Linked DNA regions of Homo sapiens: region 2 is linked to region 1. Evidence: fine-mapped expression QTL. A gene starts in region 1. The other region holds a variant in brackets. All regions are shown on one strand. Distances are between the middles of the regions.

The links. PIP is the estimated chance that this variant, and not a neighbour inherited with it, causes the effect.
Region 2: its variant is the best candidate, but not a certain one, in a credible set for the expression of AKT2 in whole blood (INTERVAL, PIP 0.86).

What each region holds. Positions count from the first base shown.
Region 1 is chr19:40,283,811-40,286,705 of GRCh38, forward strand. It overlaps AKT2 (AKT serine/threonine kinase 2), which reads right to left and starts at 1,535. Exons shown (of 14, transcript NM_001626.6): 1 at 1,371-1,535. RefSeq lists enhancers at 560-699, 1,856-2,687 and a silencer at 1,070-1,569.
Region 2 is chr19:40,231,719-40,234,613 of GRCh38, forward strand. It overlaps AKT2 (AKT serine/threonine kinase 2), which reads right to left. Exons shown (of 14, transcript NM_001626.6): 14 at 1-2,233. The coding sequence ends at 2,154. Among named protein-coding and RNA genes, the nearest start is that of CCNP, 6.5 kb to the left of the region's middle. The variant G/A (reference allele first, on the strand shown) is at 1,131.

The DNA.
Region 1 (2,895 bases):
AAGTCCCCTTGGCCTATGCAAAGAGGAACAGCTGGGAAAACAGCTCCCGGCCTCACTGCAAGGCCAACTGTTACTGCCTTGGTGGGGAGTGTAAACATGATGTGTGACCGAGCTGGTAACTGGGAGACACAAACAGCTTCGTGGCCAGCGACAGAGGAGCATGTAGTGGTCTGCGTTGGTTCCTGGACCCTTCACATCCACTGCCAACCAAGTTCAGCCCACGAGTGAACTCCTGCTGCTTCTCTGGGAAGGTAGGAGTGGATGAAGTTGAAAAGCAGCCCATTGGAGGCTCTAGTTACTCCAGCCCAGGCGTCTTGCTGAGCCCCAAGAGGTCTCCAAATGAGAGGAAGAGGTCCTCACAATCCCAAGATCAAGATGCCCCCAGAGAGCTTCCCTGGGGGGAAGAGGTGTTCCCCCAAACACTCCTTCCTCCCAAGTTTTAACAAGCGGGTGCAGGGGCACGGCTCCTCAAATCCAAGCCCAATCCCTCTTCCTCTTCAGAATGTTAAGGCTCAGACAACTTCAGTGACTTCTAACACAGCTTTCCTCCCTCCCCTATGGAAGGAAAGAACTGTTACTGCCTGGTAAATAATCTGAGAGGGTAATGGAATCCAGAGCAGCACCTCCATGGTCCAAAGCACCCCAGTAACCATGACGTTCCCTCCAGAGTCGTTAAGAAGTTCAATAAAGGCTGAGATCAGTGTAAACCCCCAACGCCACACACGTCAAATACAGGAAACAGAAACCCCTCCTCACCAATCGGCATCACAGTCCTCCCAAAATACGCCCCTAAAACCCACTAGGGCCTGTCCCGCCCCGTCCCAGTCCCTTAAAGATCACAAACATCACAGTCCTCTGATTTGGGTTCCCCTACGTTCTAAGCAGGGCTCCCCCAACGCCGTGGTGATATAACCCAGCCACAGTTGGGGAAGCATCCTCCCCAGAAGCCCCCACCCCTGTAAATACAGCACAGCAACGGCTTCCACAGCGCCAAAAAGGTACAGCCCTCTACACTTGATGCGGCGCGCCCCCTCGATAGCTTAGCCCGCGCACGCCAGGCTCGATCTGCCCGCCGCGCCCGAAAGGTCCAGCCCCCGGCCCGCGCACGCTGCGGCCTGCGCTCCCCGTCCCGCAAACTTGCAGCGCTCCCCCCACCGCCTCAGTGGTATGGCCCGCCGCCACCGCCCCGGCCCCCCGAGGCTGGTCCCACCGCCCCCGCTCGGCCACCCCCACTCAGCTCCTGAAGGAGGGGCTCGAGGGCCGCGGTCCCCCCGCCGGGCACGGGTGGTACAGCCCATCGCGGCACCGCGGGGGGCCCGGACGCGACCATCGTGGGGGGGGCGTTCGGGGACACGCGCTGGCGCACTCACCTGTCACCGGCAGCCGCCCAGCCTCTCCGGCGGGGCTCTACCCCCGCCCATCGCCACGCTGCGCTGGTTCCCTTTCCTTGTGTTTCCCGGCAGCGGCAACGGCGCCGGCAGCGGCAGCGGCGGCGGCGACGCCTCCTCCGAGGCAGGCCCAACGGCTAGCACGGCGCGGCCCCCCCCGCCCCCTCCCCCCAGCCCCCGCTTACCGCCCCCTCCCACCCTCTGGACGGAAATACCGCCCTCTCGCGCCACAAACAGGAAGTGACGTACAAAGAGCCAGAGACGAACTCTGAGAGAGCGAGAGCGCAAGAGCAGGGCAGAGAAGGAGGCGGGCTCACAGCAGGGCGCCTGCGCACATTAGACAACTTTGGGCCTGTGTGGGTTAGAGATGGGCCTCGCTAGGCCGTGGGGCGGAAAGGCGAGATGGGGCTACGCAGGCGCACTAGGACTCCGACGTCTGCTTTCCCTAGGGCCTAGCCGTAGTGATTATTTCCCGGCAGCCCCTAGTCCGTATTTACATACGCTTTGATCTTGTTTTACTCAGTTCTGGGTTCTGACGCTCTTAAAGGACCCCGGAGCGGGAGTTAGTTAGGAGGGGTTTCCTTTTCAGTGTGCTCGTCATGGTTGAGCTCAGGCTCTGAAGCCACACAACCCCAGACTTGAATTTCCTCCTTTCTGGTGACTGTGGGCAGAAGGCTTGACCGTTTTCTGTGCCTCAGTATCCACATCTGCTAAATGGAAACAATCATCGCTGTGTCGCTGGCTTTTGAACCATTTTAATGTAAACAAAACGGTTTTTACCAATTAGTTCATTACTGCAAGATATTAATGCCACCTGCTCTCATCGTACATATTCCAGTGAATCTGGGATATAACATTTTATAATGCAACTTGGGCCCATAAAGGCCTTAAAATCACCCTGCGGCCGGGCGCGGTGGCTCACTCCTGTAATCCTAGCACTTGGGGAGGCCAAGGCAGACGGATCATGAGGTCAGGAGTTCGAGACAGCCTGGCCAACATAGTGAAACCCCGTCTCTACTCAAAATACAAAAAAAAAAAAAAAAGCCGGGCATGTCGGTGTGTGCCTGTAATCCCAACTACTTGGGAGGCTTGAGGCAGGAGAATCGCGTGAACCCGGGAGGCAGAGGTTTCAGTGAGCCGAGATCATGCCATTGCACTCCGGCCCGGGCGACAGTGCAAGTCTCCGTCTCAAAAAAAAAAAAAAAAAAGAAAAGAAAGAAAAAAGAAAAAAAATGACCCTGCAAGAAAAGAGCTTTGCACAGATCCTAATCCGTATATTAGCTAGTATACTGGACAGCTGTGAGACATCTGGCTCCCAGCCCCTCCTCTCTCATAGGGGATTGTGCTGCCTCCTGAATTTGGGTTCCAGTATGCCATATAACTTGGCAATTGTATGCATTGGTAAGTGAGAAAAATGCCTGACTGAGAGTTGAATCCTGGGTCCACCTCAGTCTGTGAGAGTGTTTCAGGCAAATCCTGCTGAGGGTTCGGCTTTCGTTTTCTGAGA
Region 2 (2,895 bases), 52 kb before region 1:
AAGTGCAGGGGCCCAGACACATCCAGGCTAAAGGGCAGTGACTAGGGGAGGGCTGACCCCAAGCTGAACAGGGTTCTAACCAAACGCTCAGGAGCTCCCAGGTGACAGCAACCACGCCACCATGAACACACCACTGGGTCTGTACTGGAATTTGGGGGCCTCAAGGCTTCCAGGTGGCAGCATAAACAGGGAGGTGGGGCAGGATAGGAATGCCCCCCTCTGAGGCTCGGCAGCCGGGTGGAATGAACCACTCCCTCTCATTCAGTGACAGCACAGGCACCCTCCTCATTCTGGGCTACCCAGATCTTCCAGCCCTGTCCCTCCACCCCACCTCTCTTAGCCTAAGCAGCACTGAGGGCCTGGAGTGGTCTCTGTCCACCCCACCCCCACATGCGGGGAGCCTTCCCATACCCCTCAGCCCCACAGCACCAGCTCCACCCACCCTCTCCAGCCTGAGCTCCTGCACACACCCCAGCTGCCCTCACCCTGAGCTCAGTGCCCTCCTTGCTGAAGGGAACGGCTAGTACAGGAGGAGCTGGGGCCCAGGGGTCTGACTCCATCACCAAGGCAAAGCCCAGAGTGGTTGGGCTGGCGTGAGTGCAGGCTGGGCCCTGGTCTGAAATGAGTGTCTTTATTGCTTGTACCGTACAAATATGAAGACGAGGAGAAAGGCCAGTAGGGACGGAGAACTGTCAGATAACAACATCGCACACAGAGGAAAAAGACCCTCACCCACCCGAACCAACCCCACCCCTCCCCACCCTGCCATGAACTGTGTAGTACAGGAGATGGGATAGGGAGAGCAAACCCACAAAAGCTAAACTCCAAACACCCAGAGGTGTTGCTACAGGGAGGGGAGGCGTGGGCAGGGCAGCTCATGGATCACAGTGGGGCTCCTCCCACTAGGTCAGCACCCCTCCCCCACAGGATGAAATGCTCGGGCCAGGGATGGGGCCCAAGCCCACACACCATGCACACTGGAGGACACGCTGCCCTCACACAAACACACATGCACACACACCCACGTGTGCCTGCGTCCCGCCGACACACGCAGTCCGAGGCACGCACAGGAGTCCCACAGCACTGACATGGACGTGCACTCATGTTCAACCTTAAGGCTGCAGAACGTG[G/A]GGCCCTGGGGAGAGGGAGGGGTGAGGGGGGCCTAGGAGCCTCCCTTTTCAGAGGCCCCCCACCCCAATAGGTACCAGAGATGCCCACCCCCACCCCTCCCTGACCAAGTCCATGGGGCCCAATACTGTCCGGTGTAAGATTGTAACAGCCAAGGCTGGTGGCCCTCCACCCCCGCAGAGGAGAGGGTGAGCCCAGCCCATAGCCCCCAGTGGGGCCAGGCCAGGCCCAGGGTCCAGCGGGAGGTAAGGCCAGCTGGAAGGAAGCCCTAGTAAGGCACGGGGCTGGGAGGCAGGCAGGTTTGGCCCCAAATGTTCCTCCTGCCTCATCCATAGGGTGAGGACAGTTTGGTGGGGAGGAGGCCGGACCAGGAGGCGGCACCCAGCCCGGCCACTCCTGGTTCCCCATGGTACAGATCCTAGGATCTGACTCCATTCACCAGGGAGCAGCCCTAACCCCCAGCCCTGCAGCTCCCAAGGGCCCCTGCCTGCCCCTGGACATTATTGCTTTTCTGCCCCCATAGGGGGACAGCGGGTGGGGGATTGGACCGCCCCGTGCCTGGCCACTCCGAGCCTAGGCCACGGGGCCTGGAAGGCAGCACCACTGTCTGCCGGGTGTCGCGTCCCACCAGAAGGCAGCCTTCGTCCAGATGCAGCAGCGCGGAGGCAGACACCAGCACGACACCCAGGCCAGAAACTCAGGCAGGCCCCAGGCGCCATGCTTCACCCCTCACTGGGGCTTGTGTGGATTAAAACCTGAATCTCCAACCGCCCAACAGCCCAGGCCTGGGCGGGAGGTGGAGTCTTCCAAATGCGAGTCTGGGCACAAAGGTGAGGCTGGAGGCTGGAGGCAGGGGCTGCAGGGGCCGCTGGGGTGCGTCTGGGAGGGGCCTGAAGAAGAACTGGAAAGGGGGTGAGGAGGTGGGGGTGGGGACACAAACCAAAAAGGCTAAGTAAAAAGTTAGGGGGAAAAAACCACCCAGCGGTGATGGCAGCGAGCGTGCGTCCTCTGCGTGGGCAGACTGCTCACTCGCGGATGCTGGCCGAGTAGGAGAACTGGGGGAAGTGGGTCCGCTGGTCCAGCTCCAGTAAGCCCAGGCTGTCATCTGTGGGCGGCAGAGGTGGATGGGGAGGACCAGTCAGGAGAGGGCCTGGGACACCTGCCCAGACTCCCTGGGGAAACGGCCCCAGCTGGCGGGGGCTGCCCACAGGACAGGACAGGAAAGGCCCATCCCTCCGCAATGGAGGCCCTCAGCCACGGACCCACTCCCCAAACCTGAGCCCCGGGCGGCCTCCTCTGGGAGTTTCCTGTGCCCTTGCCCATGCGCCCCACAGCTGGCAGGGCCTTCTGAGCCTCCCACCTTCTCTCTGCCCCACACACCACCATGCCAGAGTCCAGCCCAGAGCCCTGTCCTGGCCTGCCTCTCGCACCCTCCCATCCATTCTCCACGGGCAGCCAGGGGGGCTTTCTAAAGGCCTGCTTTAACCCTGTCCCTCTCTGTATGAAACCCTTCCATGGCTGGCTCCCGCCATGCAAGCAGTCCCCACCCCTCCCAGTGGCCCCCAGACCCTTGCACTCCAGCCCCATGCCCTCTCTTCTCACCACCATCTCCCTGGCTGCTGCCGGTCCTTAGCTATGCCATGCTTCTCCCATTGCTGGCATCCCACACGTCATTCCTCCGGCCAGCTGACACGTTTGCTTCCTCCTCTAGAAAGCCCTCCCTAACTGCAGGCCAGGTCGGATATTTCCTCTGGGATTCCCCAGTCC